Linked DNA regions of Homo sapiens. The gene in region 2 interacts genetically with the main gene of each other region. Each region holds a gene or a part of one and is shown on either strand. Other genes may lie near its edges. The genes, in order: GNA13, ARHGEF11 and GNA12.

The links.
Region 1: of ARHGEF11 (region 2) and GNA13, changing one enhances a phenotype caused by changing the other (phenotypic enhancement), as found in Homo sapiens cells (one study listed by BioGRID).
Region 3: of ARHGEF11 (region 2) and GNA12, changing one enhances a phenotype caused by changing the other (phenotypic enhancement), as found in Homo sapiens cells (one study listed by BioGRID).

What each region holds. Positions count from the first base shown.
Region 1 is NC_000017.11:65,053,589-65,060,808, forward strand, and holds the start of GNA13 (guanine nucleotide-binding protein subunit alpha-13), read right to left. Parts: upstream 3,153-7,220; 5' UTR 3,006-3,152; coding exon 2,723-3,005; intron 2,187-2,722; exon of another isoform or gene 2,005-2,186; intron 141-2,004; coding exon 1-140. UniProt on the Homo sapiens protein: Guanine nucleotide-binding proteins (G proteins) are involved as modulators or transducers in various transmembrane signaling systems.
Region 2 is NC_000001.11:156,937,743-156,944,742, reverse strand, and holds part of ARHGEF11 (rho guanine nucleotide exchange factor 11), read left to right. Parts: intron 1-309; coding exon 310-385; intron 386-640; coding exon 641-808; intron 809-1,962; coding exon 1,963-2,053; intron 2,054-2,753; coding exon 2,754-2,879; intron 2,880-3,309; coding exon 3,310-3,371; intron 3,372-3,669; exon of another isoform or gene 3,670-3,685; coding exon of another isoform or gene 3,686-3,688; intron 3,689-4,317; coding exon 4,318-4,536; intron 4,537-4,832; coding exon 4,833-5,195; intron 5,196-6,229; coding exon 6,230-6,325; intron 6,326-7,000. UniProt on the Homo sapiens protein: May play a role in the regulation of RhoA GTPase by guanine nucleotide-binding alpha-12 (GNA12) and alpha-13 (GNA13). Acts as guanine nucleotide exchange factor (GEF) for RhoA GTPase and may act as GTPase-activating protein (GAP) for GNA12 and GNA13.
Region 3 is NC_000007.14:2,841,214-2,849,111, forward strand, and holds the start of GNA12 (guanine nucleotide-binding protein subunit alpha-12), read right to left. Parts: upstream 3,096-7,898; 5' UTR 2,949-3,095; coding exon 2,640-2,948; intron 1-2,639. UniProt on the Homo sapiens protein: Guanine nucleotide-binding proteins (G proteins) are involved as modulators or transducers in various transmembrane signaling systems. Activates effector molecule RhoA by binding and activating RhoGEFs (ARHGEF12/LARG).

The DNA.
Region 1 (7,220 bases), on a different chromosome or scaffold from region 2:
AACCCTTGTTTCCACCATTCCTTGGGCTGCCATGGGGGCCCGGGTATCAAACGACATCATCTTATCTCCATGTTGTTGGTTTGAGTTGTCTCCCCAGGGAATATGAAGCTTCTCTCGAGCATCAACCAGCACCCTCATACCTTTGTTTAAAAAGAAGAAAAAAAATGTATGGAGAGGAGTCATTACATATTATCATAAGTTTTTATTCCAGTATTATTTCCTTATACTTCTGAATTAACCTAGACAAACCTTCTTCAAAAATGAAGACCAACATCGAAAACAAATGTAACTTCTCAGAGGTTAAAAAAAATAACAGTTGCTCACTGTCTTAAAATTAGAGCCTTGAAAAGCAAATACTATTAGCACAATTCCTCTCTCTGAAGGATTTTTAACATGTTCCAATTTATAAAATAACTTCTAGGATAGAAGGTAGTCAAAAAACAATCTAACTCAAGAAAGAAAAAGAAGTTATGCTGCACAGACCAACAATGTCCAAGCTCAGAAGAAAACAGACACAACCAAGGTTTTATGAGCCTAAAAGATGTTCATTTATGAAACACTAAGAACCAACTACTATAGCTCCATGTTCTGTTTGTTGCTTCGGCACCCTAACCCAACATTGAGTCTTCTAGCAACACATTCAAAATTTAAAAACTTCTTCCAGCCCAAGTTTCAATCCAGTTTAAGTTACAGGATGGCCTTCAATTTCCCTAAAAGGGAGGAAGATCAACTGCAAAATAATACAAAGTCGGACTCCAACTCACAGAGGTTAGTTGAAACTCATTTTTCCTATCACTGATCTATTACTTTTATTAAGTTTGATCAATCTGAACAGTCACTTGGCTATTAGGAAGTCATCTGAATAACTGAAAAACGGGTGGGGTTTTTTTGTTTTTGTTTTTTAATAGAGACGAGGTCTGGCTATGTAGCCCAGCTGGTCTGGAACTCCTGGGCTCAAGCCATCCTCCCACTTTGGCCTCCCAAAGTGCTGGGATTGCAGGAGTGAGCCACCACGCCCAGCCTGAGAAACTGTTCTACTGTCAAATTTCATGTCAACTTGAAAAAACTAGATTCCTGATGACTTACATCATCTCATAATCAATGCTCAACGTAGATCACACTTACAACTCAGTGTACATTAAGAACGAGGTGTTTACCAGGCTCACAGTCAGTTAACATGTTGATGCTATTCATTAACATAATTCCTTAAGTTCAGCTGCATCAGGTTACAAAGGTACCTTCAATTAAGGACTGTCAAGGCAGAGTCTGCAGCCTTGAAAGAGACCTTAATTAGTTTTGAGCTAAACATTACAGCAGGATAAATACAACTGTTCTTTATAGTTTAACTGCAGAGGTACTAGGGCTAGAGCTGGCTGTGGTCTAGTGATTCTCTCTAATTCATTACTCCATAATGCCTGGCTCTTCAGGCAGTTTTCCTTTACCCAAACGCTGGAAGCTCGGGAGGCGGTTGGCGGGGAGGGGGCGGGGGGGTGACATGCAGAAGTCCCTTATGTACTTCCTGAACAAAAATCCCACTTAAAAAGACCTGCAATCTGTAGCAAACTCCTAAACTGCTCCCCAGATAAAATAAAATCCAGATGCACCTGAGTTACCAGGCGCTGCACCTAAATTTTGCCAAAATGCCTTTTCTATAGAACATACTTGACACGCAGAAACGAGTGTTAATTATCTTTCAAATGACAAAATAAAAACCATCTTTTCGATTTCTTTGAATGCCCAGAAATAAACAACTTGTTTATTTTTCACTTAAGAACAAAGTTTAATTTTAAAACTACTGTCAATAAAGAGCCGAGCCAATTATCTAACTCAACACTCATTCATTGTCTCCATCTGTACAGGATCCACATGACTTTTAGGCCAGTCTTCTTACTACTACATTTCATCTAAATAGAAGCAGTGGTACTCCCTTCCTGCCAGCCCCCAGTTACTTAGCGAAAAGGAGAGTGGAACGTGTTGCACAGAAATCACACGCAAACATCCTACCTGACCGTGACACTGGGGCGAAAAAGCACAGATGCTACATTTTCATGCTAACTGTATGGGTCCACTCTCTCCTGATTCCAGTACAGTCAACCTGACACTCCTCAAGTTTCATATTCTCGCCCAAAAGGAGGCTGTCACCCTACGCCCTTGACAAGAAGTCTCGGGCAAAAAGTTCCCTTATTGCGACGGTTCCAGAACTCGCTTGCTTAGGAGACGGCCAAGGAAGCAGGGAGTTGGGAGCGCATGCGACCCCATGTGACTCGGGTCACCCAGCCAGGGTAGCGAGGTTCGGCCCACATCGCCCGAGCAGGGGATGGGGGTGAAGCGGCTAGGGCTGCTATTGGTGTTCCTGCCTCATCCGCAGCGGGGAGGACAGGAGAGGTCTGCCCACACCCCGAGGCAGCACCCAGCTCGCCCCACTTCCCTCTCGCAGGGGGAGAGACCAGGACGCGGTGGGGGGTGGGGGAATGGCCGTGACGCCCACCGGGGAGACAAGCGGGAGAGCAGGGCGACCCCGAGCATCCTCTCGCCCTGGGGCGCGAGGGCACCCCGGGCGGGCAGGGCCAGTTGCCGGGGCGCGCCCCCTTCCCGCCAGCCCGCCCGCCGGGCCCGTTCCTTCGCCAGCGACACAGCGGACCAGGGCGGTGCCCCGCCCCGCACCCGCCGCCGCCCCAGCCCCCCTGCCCTTAACCCCCGGCCCCCATTCCCGGCCCGGCACCTTTGATCACGTTGCTGTAGATGGTGGGGCGGAACTCCTCGCGCGCGCGCTGGTCGAAGTCCTGCCCGTGGATGATCCGCATCTGCTTCAGGAAGGTGGACTTGCCGCTCTCGCCCGCGCCCAGCAGCAGGATCTTCACCAGCCGCTTCACATAGGTCTTTTCCCGAGACAGGCATTTGTCGATCTCCTTGGACTTGCGTTGCTGCTCGGCCTCGCCACTCGTCAGCAGGCAGCCGGGGAAGCACACGGACAGCACGGACCGCGACGGCAGGAAGTCCGCCATCTTGCCGCCGCCGCCGCCGCCTCGGCGGGCCCCTCCGGCTCCCTCCACCTCCTCCTCCGGCGGCGGGCGGCTCCGGCACCGAGGCTCGAGGGCGGGGAGCGCGGCGGCGGCCCGAGCGCGCCCAGGGAGGGAGGGAACCAGCGAACTGACTCGCAGGGCGGGCCGGGCAGGGCGGGCCAGGACAGCGGGGGAGGGAGGGAGGGAAGGAGGGCGGGCCCGGCCCCGGAGGGGCGGTGGCCCCGGAGCGTGCGCGCTCCCGCTGCCTCCCGGAGGCGCGCTCGCACGCCGCGGCCGCTTCTCCGCCTCCCGCCCTGGGCGGCGAGTCACGAGCTCGATGTGTCGCTCGGGTGCCCGCGCCCGCAGCCGCGGCCGGGCGCGCGGGGAGGGCTGAGGAACCGCGGTCACGTGGGCCAGGCTGGGGAGCCCGACTTTCTGTTTCCCTTTCATGGCCTGAGCCCACTTGTGGGCAGAAGGGCTCCTTCCCCAAGGCCGGGAGGCCGGAGACCAGGTCCCGGACGCGGTTCTTTGGGCTCCCACTTAGCCTCCCTTTCTCCCGCGTTGCGCGCCCGCTGCCCGCTGTCACCGCCCACCCGACCCATTTCGAGGCCACGGACTCGAAAGTTATTCGAACAGAACAGCCGGCGTGAGCCTGGCAGGCCTTTGGTGCATTTTCTTTATTTCATTTTATTTTTTCTCTTTTGAGACGGAGTCTCACCCTGTCGCCCAGGCTGGAGTGCATTGGCTCGATCTCGACTCACTGCAACCTCCGCCTCCCAGGTTCAAGCCATCCTTCCGCCTCAGCCTCCCGAGTAGCTGGGAGTACAGGCGTGTGCCATCATACCCGGCTAAATTTTTTGTATTTATTTTTAGATACAGGGGCTCCCCCCTATGTTGCCCAGGCTGGTCTCGAACTCCTGAGCTCAAGCGATCCTCTAGCCTCGGCCTCCCACAGTGCGGGGATTCCAGACAGAGCCACCAGGCCCAGGCCTGGTGTGTTTTCTTAAAGTGACTCCCTTGACCTTCTAGTCTCCGAATCCCAGAACGGTAACCAGACGTCGTCCACCCCCACTTCCAGCTCTTTCTGGCATTTTCAGACCCCTACCAGGGCTCTCTGTGAGGGGAAAGAACTGGAGTTGATGTTCACTTGAGACGTGCTACCAGGGGCATTTAATGGCTCACTCGTGCATTCCACCTGGGCTGTGATGTGACTTCAGGGACGCTTGGCCGCGCCGGAATTAGCGAGTGGCAGCAGGAGGGTGAGGTCATGGTGAAAATCCCCTACACCGGACACTGTGATGTAGGCTCTTCCCAACAAGGAAGCAGATACACAAACACAACGAGGAATGGGAGCACGCAAATTTTAGCTTTCCTGCCAGATTACAGAGGATATGACCCGTCCAGGGACTTTTTTTCTGTCCTAACAGCAGATTCAGGCCAGGACACCTGAAAGGAGGCCAGGAGACAAGCCACAAGTGACAGCTGTGGGTTGGCAGAGAAACTGCTTAACCGGGACCCCCGAGAGCCGACCTCTTCATTCTTAGTATTTAGTTTCAAGTGGAAAAAGCCACTTTGGTCTGTCCCTGTTTTGGGCAATGCAACGTAGCTTTGGGCTCCTGTGGCTCAGAAACTTCGTATGTATAAGGGAGCGGAGGTAAGAGGTCAGCATTCCAAGAAACTCCCGAACAGGTTTAAATTTTAAAATCGGTACTAATCAGTTACTCCCTGGGGTTGGGTTAATGACCGAGAAGCCTCGACTCAGTAGATTGGCTGCAGTAAACAATGCCTGTAGTAGGATTATCTCCTGTGGCTCTGGCAAGCCCAGAGGGTGGACAACCTACAATATACAAGTAGAGTAGGCTCACCTCCAATATCTGTGGATTGATAAGAGTCAGAATCACTGAGCAGTGCTGTCAGGCAAAATATATGGTAAAAGCCTGCCCTGGATGGAGAATTTTTCCATCATCTCATCTAGTGTTTGGGAGGCCCTGTTCTCTAACCATGCAAGGACTCGCCTCTCCCAGGATTGGGGCATAGAACCTGTCCCCGAGCACTGTTTCTGCATTGACCCCAGGTGCTAATCTGAACTCCAACAAAGAGGAGAGAAACTTGTAAGTTAGGTAGTTAACATCTTTTTTCAGAAGTGTGTGTAATATAATGGAAAACCAAGAATGCCTAGGAGGCAGGAAGGTATTCCTGCCCAGCCAGTTCATGTCGTGACATGCAGAGCAGCAGAGAAAGCTGTTTAAAGCCCTGCGTGTAAGCTTGCCTTGGAACAAACTTGGCTCACATCAAGTCTGGCTGTTCTAGTCAGTGTAGTTTTTAAAAAGAGACCTCTTTGACCTGAAAGTCAAATGAAGGAAGAAGAAGAAGAAGGAGGAAGGAGGAAGGAAGAAAGAAAGAAAAAGAAGGCCGGGCACAGTAGCTCATGCCTGTAATCCCAGCACTTTGGGAGGCTGATGCAGGCAGATGACTTGAGCCCAGGAGTTCGAGACCAGCCTGGCCAACATGGCGAAACTTCATCTCTACTAAAAATACAAAAATTAGTGGGGAGTGGTGGTGGGCGCTTGTAGTCCCAGCTACTCGGGAGGCTGAGGCAGGAGAATTGCTTGAACGTGGGAGGCGGAGGTTGCAGTGAGCCGAGATCAGGCCACTGCACTCCAGCATGGGTGACAGAGTGAGACTCTCTGTCTCAAAAAAAAAAAAAAAGAAAAAGAATGAATGAATGAAAGAAAGAAAAAGAGACCTCTTTGGGTCCAACCTAGGGGTTTGGCTGCAGCTGTCCAGCTTCTTCTAACTGGTGATCAAGACACCTTGTAAATTGTAAACATAAAAATGAGTTAGAGACTTGGTGGTTTCTCAAAGAGGTGAACATAGAATTGCCATATGACCCAGTAATTTTATCCTGGGTATACCCCCCAAAATACTAAAAAGAATTGAAAACAGTGTTCAAACAAAAACTTGTATACCCACGTTCATGGCAGCACCATTTATGGTAGCCAAGAGATTAGCCGGCTGCAGTGGTTCACGCCTGTAATCCAAACACTTAAGCCAGGAGTTTAAGAGCAGCCTGGGCAACATGGTGAAACCCTGTCTACAAAAAAATATATAAAAAGTAGGGGAAGGCGGTGTGCACCTGTGGTCCTAGCTACTCAGAAGGCTGAGGTGGGAAAATCGCTTGAGTCCAGGAAGCGGAGGCTGCAGTGAGCCAAAATTGCACCACTGCACTTCAGCCTGGGGAACAGAGCCAGACCCTGTCTCAAAAAAAAAAAAAAAAAAATAGCCAGATGTGGTGGCACATAGCTGTAGTTCTAGCTACTCAGGAGGCTGAGGCAGGAAGATTGCTTAAATGCAGGAGCTCAAGGCTACAGTGAGCTATGATCATGCCACTGAACTCTAAGTCTGTGTGACAGAGTGAGACCCTATCTCTAAAAAACAAGACACAAAGAGGGGAACAACAGACACTGGGACCTACTTGAGGGTGGAAGGCAGGAGGAGGGAGAGGATTAAAAAAAAAATACCTGGTCGGGTGCAGTGGTTCACACCTGTAATCCCAGCACTTTTCGGAGGCCGAGGCGGGCGGATCACCTGAGGTCAGGAGTTTGAGACCAGCCTGGCCAATATGATGAAACCCCATCTCTACTAAAAATACCAAAAATTAGGCGGGCATGGTGGCACGCGCCTGTAATCCCAGCTCCTCAGGAGGCTGAGACAGGAGAATTGTTTGAACCTGGGAGGCGGAGGTTGCAGTGAGCCGAGATCACGCCATTGCACTCTAGCCTGGGCAGCAAGAGCGAAACTCCGTCTCAAAAACCAAAACAAAACGAAACAAAACAAAAAACATATCGCATACTATACTTATTACCTGAGTGACTAAATAATCTGTACACCAAACTCGAGATGAGCAGTTTACCTGTATAACAAACCTGCATATGTACTCCTAAACCTAAAATAAAAGTTAAAAAAACCCACAACAACAAAAAAGGAATAGCCAAAAGGTGTCCAAATGTCCATCGATGAACGAATGGATAAACCAAATGTCGCATATCTATACATTGCAATTATTCAGCCATAAAAAGGAATGAGGTGCTGACACATGCTGCAACATGAATGAACTTTGAAAATACTAGGCAAAGTGAAACAAAAGGCCCCATATTATAAGGTTCCACTTATGTGAAATGTCCAGAATAGGCAAATCCATAAAACAGAAAGCAGATG
Region 2 (7,000 bases):
GGGAATAGAGCTGGAGGCATGGGCAGGAAAAGCAGTATGTGATCTTCTTGGGACTGTAGCTGGCACGTGGTAGGGGCAGGTGGGAGACCCAAGTCAGAGCCATTGGTATATCCCCCTGCTGCCACATGGCACATGACTTCACAGTTACCTTTTTGCTTGTCTTCATCCCGCACAAGAGAGTAAGGGCAAGGACTTTTTCTTATTTACCAATTCCCAGCACCTTAACACAATGTCTGGCACACAGTAGGCTCTCAAACACTTGAATGAATGAATGAATGAATGAATGAATGAATGGTGTCTCCTTAACAGAGCCTGGATCTTACAACCAGAAAAATGATCCATGAGGGACCCCTGACCTGGAGGATCAGCAAGGATAAGACCTTGGGTATGTGCCAGGGGACTGGGACTGAGCAGGAACCTGTAGTGGGTGGGCCTCCCTGGGCTCTTCTGTCTTTCCCAAGCATGGAAACATGACTGGAGGTGATAGCTCAGGACATGGGAAGGGAATAATCAGAGAGAGAAATGGGGTCACCAGACTCCCAGGACTTCCTAGAGCCTCCAAGAGCCTGTGGCCCTGCATTGTGCTCATGAGGGATGAGTAGGCACCAGGGAACACCTTCCCATGACCATACCCCTCCAGACCTCCACGTGCTGCTGCTGGAGGACCTCCTAGTGCTGCTACAGAAACAGGATGAGAAGCTATTGCTGAAGTGCCACAGCAAGACTGCTGTGGGCTCCTCAGACAGCAAGCAGACCTTCAGCCCCGTGCTCAAGCTCAATGCTGTGCTCATCCGCTCTGTGGCCACAGGTACCTGGGGAGATGGTCCAGGCTGGCCTGGGGCTCAGGGACCATGTCCAGCAAGTGCTGGGTGAGGCAGGGCCAGTCTGGAGCCTTTACAGGACCTACCTGTCCACCTGTGTTCCTTTCCTCCTGTCCTGACCCAGCCTAAGTGGTAGGACTGGCCCAAAGTGGGGTAGGATGAGGGTTAGGATGGGGACCAAGAGGAAGACAGACAACCTGGCACAGGGGTGGTCAGCAGTCCCCAAGCACAGTGCTGGATGGGATGTGCACACCCAGGATGGGTGAGAGTGTCTGAGCAGGATTGGGAAGAATGGGATTAGGCAGAATGAGTAGGACAAGCCTTTCTGCTACAGAGTGACTTGGGCAGAGCTTGGTTACAGAAGATGTTAGTACCCACGGTACAGAGCTGGGTCCAGTGGACAGGGACATTTCAATGAGAAGTGTAGTGTGTGTGAGAAAGGGCTCTGGAGCAAAATTCTCTGGATTCACTTTCTTCGTCTGTAAGATAGGAGTGATACCTACCCTACCTCTTGTGGGCATCAAAAGGGATGACGGGTATGAAAAAGTTTTATAAACCCTTGACCAGGCACTGTGGCTCATGCCTGTAATCCCAGCCCTTTGGGAGGCCGAGGCACTCAGATCACTTGAGGTCAGGAGTTCAAGACCAGCCTGGCCAACATGGTGAAACCCTATCTCTACTAAAAATACAAAAATTAGCCAGGCATGTTGGCAGGCACCTGTAATTCCAGTTACTCGGGAGGCTGAGGCAGGAGAATCACTTGAACCCGGGAGGCGCAGGTTGCAGTGAGCCAAGATGGCACCACTACATTCTAGCCTGGGTGACAGAGCAAGAATCCGTTTCAAAAAAAAAAAAAGTTTTATAACTCCTAAGCACCATACACCTATCAGCCATCACTGTTATTAGAGCAGGAGAGGAATGGGGGTGGCTGTGGAAGATGACATTAGGGGTCCTGGAATTTCCTCTGTCCCTTATGTAAGTGGGTTCCAAGTGGTCCTGAAGATCCACATCTGTCTCGTGCTGCACTCTCCATCTGCGTTGAGGGTCAGGGCTTTGAGTCCCACTCTGTCACCCTGGCCCAGGCTGCAGTCACACCTGCCATCCCTAGTACAGACCCTTCTACCTTCCTTTCCTCACACAGATAAACGGGCCTTCTTCATCATCTGCACCTCCAAGCTGGGCCCACCCCAGATCTATGAGCTGGTTGCATTGACGTCATCAGACAAGAACACGTGAGAATTGATTGAGGGGTTACCCGTAACTGTGGTCCCTTTCGGACCAGGGTGGTGTTTATGAGGACAGTGGGTAGCAAGGCCAGGTTTGGGCCCCAAAGCAGTCCCTGGACAAGGGGTTGGGAAGGAAGTGGGAGGTAGGACAGAAGTAGAGAAGCTGGGAGGGGTCATCACCCCCGACCTGGTCACCAGGCCCGCTTCTGGGAGAATGAGCTTCTGGCAGTCTTCCAGCCGCTGCTGCTGCTTCTTTCCTTCCTGCCCTACTCCCTTCACCATTAGGCAGATTAGATTCATGCATCCTTCTCAGGCATTTGCCTCCCACCCAGCCCATGTTCTTTGACAGCAGCTGCCAGAGGTGGCATGGTACAGTGGAAGGAGACAGGTTGAGTCAGACTGTTTCCCAACTCCAGGGTTTTCATCTGTAAAATGTGGCTAATGCTACCTGTTAGAGGATTACTTTAGAGGGAAAACATAGAATGCTTTGCACAGAGTGTAACAGAGGGTTGGTGTCCAGGATTTGGTAGCTGCAAGTAATATAACCGCAAGGGAGCAGCCAGGGAGGACTGTACAGGGAGGTGGGCACCTGCCAGGCAGAGGGTTCTTAGGGCCTGGAAGCCCTGTTCCAGTGGGCTCAGTACGGGGTGGTGCGTGCTGCTATCTTGCTCTCACTACAGTCCTCTCTGTTCCTGCCGAGCAACAGATGGATGGAGCTCTTAGAAGAGGCCGTGCGGAATGCCACCAGGCACCCCGGAGCTGCCCCAATGCCCGTCCATCCTCCACCCCCAGGTCCCCGGGAGCCAGCCCAGCAGGGCCCCACACCCAGCAGGTGCAGTGCTTAGCCCTCCAGACCCTGCACTCTCTCCACTCCAAACCTCCTGTTTCCTGCTGCTTTTAAGCCCTTCGCCCCCGTGGGTAGACAGCCACAACAGGGAAATGCTAGCAGGGAGCAGACAGCTCCAAGTGCTGGCAGATGGAGGAACATGCCCCCTGTCCCTGCTTCTTGTCCCTGTCTGCTCCCCCACAGCCTGCCACCTGGCTATAATAGAGCTGAGCCTGAAGAAGGGTGAGGGGGATGTAGAGCAAGGGACCAGAGAAGCTCAGCTAGCAGCCCCCCTCCTCTCTGGGTTGCCAAGCAGACCAGCCAGGTGAAGAGGCCCACACCGTCCTTCTCGGATCCTACTCCATTGCCCATTCTAATGCATGAGTCCAGGGTGGAATCTCATGGGATCTCATCCTGTGTTGGTTTCCTTCCTCAGGGTAGAACTGGATGACTCAGACGTGTTCCATGGTGAACCTGAACCTGAGGAGCTGCCTGGAGGTAAGGGCCCTGAACTGTCCTGTGGGAGCCAGCCCAGGCCTTTTTCTGTAGGCACAGGTTGGGTGTGAGTATGGGGGCGATGGGAGAGTCCATCAGGGCCCGGGGTGTGAGGTTTTGATAAAGAGTAGAGAAGAAACAGGGCGGGAGGAAGAGTCTGGAAGAGGAAGGAGAGCAGACTGAACAGACTTAAGAAAGGGTGAACTCGCTCACCTGACCAGAAATTCCCACCCAGCCTCTCTGGGTGACGGCATCAGCTGTGGAAGAAGACGAGCAGTCTGGCGGGATCCACGGGCCCTGCATCCTCCAGCCAGGGGTTACTGTTGGGGAGGGAGATACATGCTGCAACAATGAGAATGGAAAACATGGCGGGGCTGGGGAGCTCAAAGGGCTTAAGATGCAGTTACTGTGATGGGATTGGTAGAGGGGACAGCATTCTCATTGAGAGCTTGCGTGAGAAATAACCTGGGGTCTTGGGTTTCAGGAGAAATCTCGGGTTTCCTGGCTGGGTCCCTGTTGTTTCCTTCTGCTTAGAATGCTTTTCCTCCTAACGCCACACCTCCTTCACGTCTTCATTCCAGTGTCCTCTTGGCCCAATCTGTTTAATACTGTAGCCAGCACTGTCCAGCCCCTAGCCCCATGCCCTGTTGTTGTTTTCTTCTTTCCGGTGGAAGTTACTGCCTTCTAACAAACTACATAATTGACTGAAGTGTCTTATTTTTGTATGTCCCTCCCCTAGAATGTAAGCTCAACATAGGCAGGGATCTTTTTGTTTTGCTTACTGTTGTATGCCAAGAGCCTGGGACAGTGCTGGCCATGGGAAGTTCTCAGTAAACAACTGTAGAATAAGTCAGTGTTCCCAGCCCCTTGGCTCCAAAGCTGCCCATAGGCTCTCCCATACGTGCCCTCTCCCTTTCCCTGCCTTACAATCTTCTCTCATCCGAAACAGGCACTGGGTCCCAGCAGAGGGTCCAAGGGAAGCACCAGGTCCTGCTAGAGGACCCTGAGCAGGAGGGCAGTGCAGAGGAAGAGGAACTGGGTGTCCTGCCTTGCCCTTCCACATCCCTGGATGGAGAGAACAGGGGCATCAGGACAAGGAACCCCATCCACTTGGCCTTCCCAGGCCCTCTGTTCATGGAAGGGCTCGCTGACTCCGCTCTGGAAGATGGTGAGTGCTTCAAGGCCCTGCCGTCAGCCCCTGGTCCCCAGTCGCACACCCAGTGTGAACTGGCAGGCGCCTGCACCCTCCACCTTCCCGAAGGCTCTTCCTGGTGTGCTTGAGGAGAGATGGATGCGGAGACAGATGTCATTCCCCACCCAACCCCCACCAGCTAGTTGGCCAGAGCCCTCCAGCTTCACCTGTGCCTGAGGTCACCACCTTGGGGTCAGTGGGGCAGTACAACGATCCTTCTGGCGTGGTGTGCAGTCCCATGCTGGGAAGACATCACCCTGTTTCCCCTCCAGTGGAGAACCTGCGACATCTGATCCTGTGGAGCCTGCTGCCAGGTCACACCATGGAAACTCAGGCTGCCCAGGAGCCCGAGGACGACCTGACACCCACACCTTCTGTCATCAGCGTCACCTCTCACCCCTGGGACCCAGGCTCCCCAGGGCAAGCACCCCCTGGGGGTGAAGGGGACAACACCCAGCTTGCAGGGCTGGAGGGGGAACGGCCAGAGCAGGAAGACATGGGTCTCTGTTCTCTGGAACACCTACCCCCAAGGACCAGAAATTCTGGGATATGGGAGTCTCCAGAACTGGACAGGAATCTGGCTGAAGATGCTTCAAGCACAGAGGCAGCAGGAGGTTACAAAGTTGTGAGAAAAGGTAAAATAAATGGGAGTGTCCAGTGGGGAGACAAGCACCCTTGCTAGGTGAGATAAGTCTTCCGAACAGCTGCTTCCTTCCCTATACTCCCCCTGGGTACCGTGTGAGCAGAGACCTACGCTGGGTCCTGGAAGAAGGAGACAACGCCGATATCAGGCAGGCTTTGGAGTTGGACATTCGAGATTCAGAGCTTAGCTCTGCCACTTAATATCTGTGTGGCTTTAGACAAAATTCTGAATCATCTCTGAACTTTGTTTTATAGCACATAAGGACATTTCTTTCTGCCTGGCACAAACCAACTACCAGTACCAGTCTCTGTTAGTGCTCCTCACTGATCTCCTGTTCCCAGGGAAAAGAGCCACTCTTCTCAGGAGCCTCAGGCCGGGAAAGACAGGGCAGGTGCATGCAGCCCCTCACGCCAGGCAACAGCTCCAAGGGCAGTAGAGGTGGCAGCTGGGACTGGAAGGGGTGGAGGACAAAGCTGGGAAGACATTTGGCGAGTGAGGGATGTGGGGAGTGAACAAGGTGGCAGGGAGGGCACCCCGGGTTGGGAAACACCATGGACGGCCTTGAGACAAGAAAAGCCAAGACAAGCTCACAGGGAGGCCAATAGATGAGCCCAGGGAGGAAGGTCCCCACCCCGGGAAGAGTGGGCTGGTCTGAGAGGGTGGCAAGAAAAGTAGAACAAAGCCTGGGGCACACATGGGATGGGGTTCCACGCTAGTGGGCCTGCCCTCCCCTGGGATTCCACTCTGCCTCCCTTCCAGCAGCATTTTTCATTCCATCTGCCCAAGGGCCACCTGTCTCCTGGGTTTCTGGGAACTGACCTTCCTTCTCTGTCTCTCGGTGAATTGGTGGAAAGTTCTCTGCACTGCCTGGGATGTCATCGTGTATGATCTTGTGTTCACCTTGTTCTTCCCATTTTCTCCTCCCCCTGTCCCCACCTCCTGCCCTCTCTCCTTCCTGTTCTCTCTCCCTTCCCTTTCCTTGTGTTTTGGTCTCTCCTCTTCCTGGTGGTGGTGGTGTCGGTGCAGCTGAGGTGGCAGGCAGCAAGGTTGTCCCTGCACTACCAGAGAGTGGCCAGTCAGAGCCTGGGCCACCTGAAGTGGAAGGCGGAACAAAGGCTACGGGTAATAACTTTCTCCTTGGAGCTAAAGACAGGCCAAGACTGGAGTGTGGAACCTGTGAGGGCAGAGTCGGACCCCTGCCCATGGTCACACACACACCCACAAGCTCCCTCAGCTGCCTGGAATGGGGAGGAGGAAGATCTGGCTCTAAAGACGGGGAGATCTGGTTCTAAAGGCTGGCTGTCCATCCAGCCTTAAGAAGCCACCTGTCCAGGCTCCTGTTCAGAATGGCAGGGATAAATGCCTGTGTGCAATTGTGGGAGGGGCAGGGAAGCCTGGCCTGGGGGTGGGGACCTAGTGTCCTTCACCTGATATGCAAGCAGCCACTTCCCCACCTCAGCCGCCGCTCCAGTGTCACTGTGGAAATCGGCTGAAAGAGCCTCCCAGATTCCGCGGTGGTTCTCTGTGCTTCCTGCCTGTCAGGAACCCTCCACGTCCTTCCTCCAGCTCTCTCTGACACCCCTTGGTTGGGTCAAGGGACCTCCAGAGGATCGTGGCATGGATGGAAGAGGGGCAGGGCAGGGCTGTAGTTCATCCAGAGCTGGAGTCAGGCAGGGCAAGAGGGCTGCTGCCTGCTCCTTTCAGAAGAGCCTGAAACCAGCTCACAATCTGTTTACTCAAGGAGGGGGAGCCACTCCAATTTCCCCAAATGAAACACTGCAGCTCTGCCACTTCTCC
Region 3 (7,898 bases), on a different chromosome or scaffold from region 2:
CGATCTCGGCTCACTGCAAGCTCCGCCTCCCGGGTTCACCCCATTCTCCTGCCAGGAGGTTGAGTTTTCTAACACGCACTTCATACAGGGATTTAGATTTCAGATTCTATGTTTCCAAATACTTTCTCCATCTACTGAGTTGGAAGAAACTAGAGACAGTCAAACTGCTATACTTTTATGCCTGCCTGGTTCTGAGGTCTGGGCAAGCAGCAACAATAAAATCAGGATCTTTAACAGAGAAGTTACAGGGCAGGCCCTGAGACAGCCAAATGCACTTGAACACAGACGCTCCCAGTGAGCTAAGCTGGGCACCTAGTCTTCAAAGTTCACGAAGTATCTGACCAGAGCTCTGACGCACCGAGAGGCTTGGAAAGAGGTAAAATGAAAAAGGGTGTTTTATCAAATTATTTTCTTCCCTTCACAATCCTAAAGGAGCTCTATTAAAATGAAACATTTCCATGAGAAGTATGTCAAGTGCGAATACTGGCCTGGAAGTCTGGAGGCCAGGATTCCAGCACAGAGACCCCAGGAAGGAGTCACTTCATCTCTAGGGCTGAGGCAGGAGTCCTTATGGGTAAGTGATACAAATGTACCCGATAGGTTTCTACGGGGCTTTGCTAAATTTAAAATCTCCCAGGCACCATAAAACCTAGTCTCCAGGCAGGTTTTCTGGCATGGCAAACTTCTCTCCGACTCTGCTTTGAGATGATTGTCCTCGCCTCTAACTTGGTTTCCCCAAAATGGGCTGGGGAAAAAGTGGTGAGGGGACAAGGAAAGGGTAGAGAGGTAGGGAGGGAGGGAGAAAGGAAGGGAGGAAGGAAGAAAAGAAAAAAGGAAGGAAGGTAGAAAGAAAGGAAGAAAAGGAAGGCGGGAAGGAAAGGAAGGAAAGGAAGGAAGGGAAGGGAGGAAGAAAAGAAAGGAAGGAAAGAAAAGAAGGAAAGGAAGGAAGGAAAAAGGGAGGGAGGACAAAGGACGCTATCTAGGTGTAAGCAAGGCTGCACTGTTCCCTCATCATCAGTTTCCTCCAGATCTTCCTTGAGGCCCTTTAACACAGGCTCACGGTACTGAGAGACTGGAACCCCGACTTTATCAACTCTATGGTTCTTTTATTTTTTTTCACTGCCACTCAGGCTGGAGTGCAGTGGCCCAAACATGGCTCACTGCAGCCTCAACCTCCCAGGCTCAACCAATTCTCCTACCTCAGCCGCTCAAGCAACTGGGACTACAGGTGCATTCCACCATGCCCAACTAATGTGTTCATTTTTGTGGCACTGAGGTCTTGCTGTGTTGCCCAGGTTGGTCTCAAACTTCTGGCCTCAAGTGATCCTCCTGCCTCAGCTTCCCAAAGTGCAGGGATTACAGGCACGAGCCATCACACCTGGCCGACTTCTACAGCTTCTTTCACAAATATGGCGAAGAGAAAAAAGGAAGCAAGAGACAGGAGAATCTGGAGATTCATTGCAATGCATGTCGAGTCACACAAAACAATTATGCCACAATGGAGGAATTCTGAACACTGGATATCTGGTGATAATGAGCTATTACTAATGTTTAGGTTTGCTAATGGTACTGCGGTTGTGTTTTTACATGGAGGCCTCATCTTTTAGCCACTCATATACATCCTAAAACGTTTCCTAATCCAACTACACAAAGTTGGATTTGCTTGGAGACCATGGGGAGGGCACAGGTGAATAGGATTGGCACAGAATTGATGACTGCTTTAGTTGGGCTGTAGGTACTTTACAGTCAATCTACTATTTTCTCTACTTTTGTATACATTTGAAGTTTTCGTATTAGAAAGTGTGGCTCACACCTGTAATCTCAGCACTTTGGGAGGCCCAGGTGGGAGGATGGCTTGAGACCAGCCTGGGCAAGAGAGTGAGAGCCTTTCTAAAAAAACAGAAAAGTAAAAAGAGACTCATGGCTGGTTCCCGTCCAGTCTCCACTGCTCTTCTTCTAAGCTCAGCCGGAGGGCACGGCCGGTTGGGCTCCTATCCCACAAATCTTCCAGTGGGAAATGGACAGATACCATTCTGCTAGGGCACATCCAGGAGGGGGCTAAGTGCCAAGCCCCCACTCCCCATCCCCAGAAGCTGGCCCGAGTTCCCACTCCCACGGTCCCCAGGCACCCTAGAGAGGGCAGAGGCAGACCGGGCGCCATGACTCATGCCTATAATCCCAGCACTTGAGGGAGACCAAGGCAGGAGGATCACTTGAGGCCAGGAGACTGAGACCAGCCTGGGCAACACAGCAAGACCCCATCTCTACAAAAAAAAACTTAAAAATTAGCTGGGCTGGTGGTGCGCGCCTGTAATCCCACTACTTCGGGAGGCTAAGGAGGGAGTAGGGCTTGAGCCTGGGAGGTCGAGGCTGCAGTGAGCTGTGAGGGCGCCACTGCACTCAAGCCTGGGAAACACAGCGAGACCCCATCTCAAAAAGGGCGAGACGGGGTGGGGCAGAGACGACGCCAGCAGGCCTCGGGGAATGGGTCGGGGGGGAGTGGGGTGCAGGCGGGGCTGGATCCAGCATCCTCGCCCCAGGGGTCCCCGCCCGCGGCGGCGGACCACGGAGGGGCCCGGGGCGGGGGTTAGCGCCCCGGCCCACCTGGGTGCAGGTGCTGGGCGGGGGGCGCGCGTCACCTTGAGGATGTTGTCGAAGATGGTGTCGCGGAACTCCAGCAGCGCCTTCTGGTCGAACTCGCGGCCGTGGATGATGCGCATCTGCTTGAGGAACGTGGACTTGCCGCTCTCGCCCGCGCCCAGCAGCAGGATCTTCACCAGGCGCCGGACCGCGCGCCGCTCGCGGGCCAGCAGCGCGTCGATGTCGCGGCTACGCCTCCGGGCCTCGCGCTCCGCGTCGCGCGCGCCGCTGCCCGCCCTGCGCTCGCGGGCCCCGCCGGCCTCGGCCGGCAGCAGGCAGCGGCTGAGGGTCCGCACCACCCCGGACATGGCCCCTCAGGCCGCGGCCGCGCCCCGCCGGCGCCCGGGGGCCATGGACGCTCCCGCCGGCGAGGGCGAGCCCGGGCCGAGGCACCGCCCCACGCCCCGCCGCTCGCCTCAGGCCGCGTCCGCCGCCGCCGCTGCAGTCGCTCCGAGGCCCGCACTCGTCGCCCGGCCGCCACTCGGGCCCGGCGGAGGGGCGGGCGGCGCCGCGTGAGGCCCGGCGGATTGGGCCGGCTGCCGTCCATCTGGCCGTGAGAGCCCTTCGATTGGCTCATCTCGCCAAGGGAGGCGGGCATCCCTTCCGGCCTCGGGGCGGGGTCGACGCCGAAAGAGGCGGGATCTTTGAGGTGAAGGCGCTTCTCATTGGACGCCCAGGCTGAGGTTCTTTCTTTCAGAATGAAAGGGAGGCGGGGTCGCCCGGGAGGCGGAGCGATCGTCCGCCATGGCCAATTATAATTGCTCTGAGTGGACATCAGACGTGCCCAACGGGCTTTGGATTGGGTGTTCGGGGGACGGGGCGTGACGAGAAGTGCCAGGTGTACAGAAAGATTCTCCCTTGGTTCCCAGATTGGGTCCGCCTGTGAGACCAGGACCTCGCGGAGTAGCCCAAAGGCTGGGAAATGCTGATAAGAGGTTCAGCTGCTCGTCGTATTCCCTCCGATGATCTTGTTTCTACACTATTTTCCTTCCAGAAACACTGGAGGGGGATGGGCCATAAATTTCAAACACATGCACCCTTTGAGAGTGGCATGGGCTTCTAGGAGGCTTTGCGAAAAGCTGACTAATCACTAAAATCACCAGAAGCTCCCCCAAAAGTCTTATGTCTCACAGTGATTGAGAGAGTGGGGTCTGGAGTTGCTGGGCCTGAGTTGGAATCTCCAGTCGACCAGTTACTAGGTGTACTAGTTGCATAACTTTTTTTAGCAGCTTTCCCCACCCCCCCCAACAAACCCTTTTGGATGTTCTTAGCTTCCGTTTCCTCATCTGTAAAACGGGGGTGTCATTGACGACATTGGTTATGGCTTGACATTGCTCAAATCGTCATGAAGATATAAACTGAGAACATGAACTTACCAAACACTTAGCACGTGAGCTAGCCCAAAATCAGCTCTTGATAGAGATCAGCTGATTACAGATTCTTGACTCTCCCAGATCTACTGAATCAGAACCTCCTAGAAGGAGCTCAGGTATCCCTTAAGATTAAAGGCGTGAGCCGCCGCGCCTGGCCCAGTGTGTAGTCTTTTATCTCTCGCCACCCCCCACCTTTTACCCTGAGTCCCCAAAGTCCAATCTCTGTGCGGTGTCTGTTAACTCTGCTGATTATTTCTTTTGCAGTGCCGAAGCTTTTTAGTTTAATTAAGTCCCATCTATTTATCTTTGTTTTTGTTGCATTTGCTTTTGGGTTCTTGGTCACAAAGTCTTTGCCTAAGCCAACGTCTAGAAGGATGTTTCCGATGTTATCTTCTAGAATGTTTATGGTTTCAGGTTGTAGATTTAAGTCTTTGATCTATCCTGAGTTGATTTTTGTATAACGTGAGAGACGAGGATCCAGTTTTATTCTTCTACATGTGGCTTGCCAATTATCTCAGCACCATTTGCTGAATAGGCTGTCCTTTCCCCACTTTGTTTTCATTTGCTTTGTTGAAGATCAGTTGGCTGTAAGTATTTGGCTTCATTTCTGGGTTCTCTATTATGTTCCATTGGTCTCTGTGCCTATTTTTATATTAGTACCATGCTGTTTTTGTGACGATAGCCTTATAGTATAGTTTGAAGTCAGGTAAAGTGATGCCTCCAGATTTGTTCTTTTTGCTTAGTCACAGATCTAAACTCCCCAGAAGGCTGGGCACGGTGACTCACAACTACAGTCCCAGCAGTTTGAGATGCTGAGGTGGGAGGATCACTTGAGCCCAGGAGGTCAAGGGTGCAGTGACCTATGATCGTGCCACTGTACTCCAGCCTGGACAACGGAGCAAGACCCTGTTTCAGAAACAAAACAAAACAAAAACCAACTCCCTGACAACCTTGAATGCACATAATATGTATTATTTGTCACTTGCTACAAATACTACAAATCATGCCATGAATTTGTATCACTTATGAGTCAAGATTTTGTAATCCTTGGAAAATGATTAGAAAGTCTTGCTTGTTTGTGGAAATGACCTCCCATAGGAGGCCAAATATGGCTGGGCACGGTGGCTCATGCCTGTAATCCCAGCACTTTGGGAGGCCAAGGCAGGCAGATTATCTAAGGTCAGGAGTTCAGGACCAGCCTGGCCAACATGGCGAAACCCTGTCGCTACTAAAAAATACAAAACTTGGTTGGGTGTGGTGGCGGGCGCCTGTAATCCCAGCTACTGGGGAGGCTGAGATAGGAGAATTGATTGAACCCGGGAGGCGGAGGTTGCAGTGAGCCGAGATCGCACCATTGCACTCCAGCCTGGGCAACAAGAGCAAAACTCTGCCTCAAAAAAACAAAAAAAAAAAAACAAAAACGGGAAGGCCAAATACTAGGTCTGGCATGGTAGCTCACACCATGTAATCCCAGCACTTTGTGAGGCTGTAATCCCAGCACTTTGTGAGGCTGAGGTGGGCAGATCACTTGAGGCCAGGAGTTTGAGACCAGCCTGGCCAACATGGTGAAACCTCCATCTCTATTAGAAATACCAAAATGAGCCAGGCATGGTGGTGAACGCCTGTAATTCCAGTTACTTAGGAGGCTGAGGCATGAGAATTGCTTGATCCCAGGAGGCTGAAGTGGCAGTGAGCTGCGATCACACCACTGCACTCCAGCCTGGGCAACAGAGCAGGACTCTGTCTCAAAAAGAAAAAAAAAAAAGAAAAAAAAAAAAAAGGCCAAACACTAGTATTGAAATAGAAGGGAGGAGAAATTGGAGAATCCAAAGAAAGCAATGTTTCTGAGACAGAAATAGGGAATTTTGAATCACTAAAGAGTGGACTAGAATTCAGAACAGGTTTTTGGCTCATCCAGTTCACACAGGGTTTATTCCTCATTCAGTTTTAAGAAATTAAGAAAAACTGATTCACAAAACAGTTTCAGCAAGTGCTCCAGACAGCACTCACAACTAACTTTAAATCCTTATAAATAAGCCAGGTATGGTGGGAGGCTGAGGTGGGAGGGTTGCTTGAGTCCAGGAGTTTGAGGCTGCAGTGAGCTATGATTGTACCACTGCACACCAGCCTGAACAACAGAACAAGACTCTGTCTCTATTTTTTTTAAATCTTTATAGCTTTATGCCTTGTGTTTATGTAATCATTAAACATTTTAAAGAGTTATTTACTTTTCTTTTTTTTTTTTTTTTTTTTTTTTTTTGTGATGCAGCTCTGTTGCCCAGGTTGGAGTGCAGTGGTGCAATCTCGGCTCACTACAACTTCTGCCTCCCAGGTCCAAGCTATTCTCCTGCCTCAGCTTCCTGAGTAGCTGGGATTACACGCACACACCACCATGCTTGGCCAATTTTTGTATTTTAAAAGAGGTGGGGTTTTATCACATTGGCCAGGCTGGTCTCAAACTCCTGACCTCAAGTGATCCACCTGCCTCGCCCTCCCAAAGTGCTGGGATTACAGGTGTGAGCCACCGGGCCTGGCCAAGAGTTACTTACATTTTTAAATGACACATTATGGCATTTTATGGGAGAAATTCTTCTGCTGTCGGCAATATTCGATTTGAGGATTTGACCAGGTCTCTGGACATCTCCACACGTGTCAATGGGCTAAGGTGCTTTAAATAAACAAGGTTATCTGCATAGTCCACAATAATCTCTTAATTATCCCTTCTGTTTGTACGGCATGCTAAAAGTTTTGAAGTACTTACAGGTGCATTATCTCATTTGCCCTCTCTACACTGCTGGGGAAAGGTGACTGCCTTACCAGTATCTGAATCCAGGTGGCTAAGCTCTCCTGGCAAGGGAAGTATGGTTAGTACACTGCAAACCCCGAACTGGAAGTCTGACACACAGCATTCTCTGTGTATAATAGGATGGAGAAAAACATGAGAACTTTGAAGTTTGGCTCCATCACCTACCAGCTGTGTGACCTTCAACAAGTCATACAGTATCTCTGAGACGTAGTTTCCTTGTCTGTAAAATCAGGATGAAAATAAAGCTGTACTACACCTTAAATAAGTTAATACAGATAAGGTCCTAGAACTGGACCTTAGCACATAACAGGCCCTCAGTAAATGGTCATATTGTTATTATTATCATCGTGGAGCTTTGGGAATCGGGTATTGCAAATTTAGAATAATAGTGGCAGGCTGGGGAAGAATCTATAAAGACAATACCTTGTATGGTATGATATTAAAAATTAAAACCTGGGAGGTGGTCTGGTCAAATAAATTAAGGTACATCCATATAAGTACAATAACATATTATTCCTGGCCAGGCATGGTGGCTCACGCCTGTAATCCTAGCACTTTGGGAGGCCGAGGTGGGCAGATCATCTGAGATCTGGAGTTTGAGACCAGCCAGGTCAACATGGTGAAACCTTCTCTCTACTAAAAATACAAAAATTAGCTGGGTGTGGAGGCACGTGCTACTTGGGAGACTGAGGCAGGAGAATCGCTTGAATCCAGGAGGCAGGGGTTACAGTGAACTGATATCGCACCACTGCACTCCAGCCTGGGCAACAGAGCGAGACTGTCTCAAAAAACAAACAAAATAACATATTATTCCTAAAAAGAATATGCAAGACTAAAATGTGTAAATAGATGGCCCACAGACATGCTTTCTTGGTCTACCAGCTGTTAAAAAAAATTGGTAGAGAGTAGGAGGAATAGACTGAATGTTCCTCCCAACTTGTATTCAGTTCCACCTCTGGAGCTAAGGAGAAGCCAGGAAGGGGGAGTCCGACAGCAGGGCCTGAAACCTTCATGTGACACGGTAAGCTCACCTGAAATCTCTAGGAAAGGAAGCAGCCACAGGGACTCTCACTCTCCAG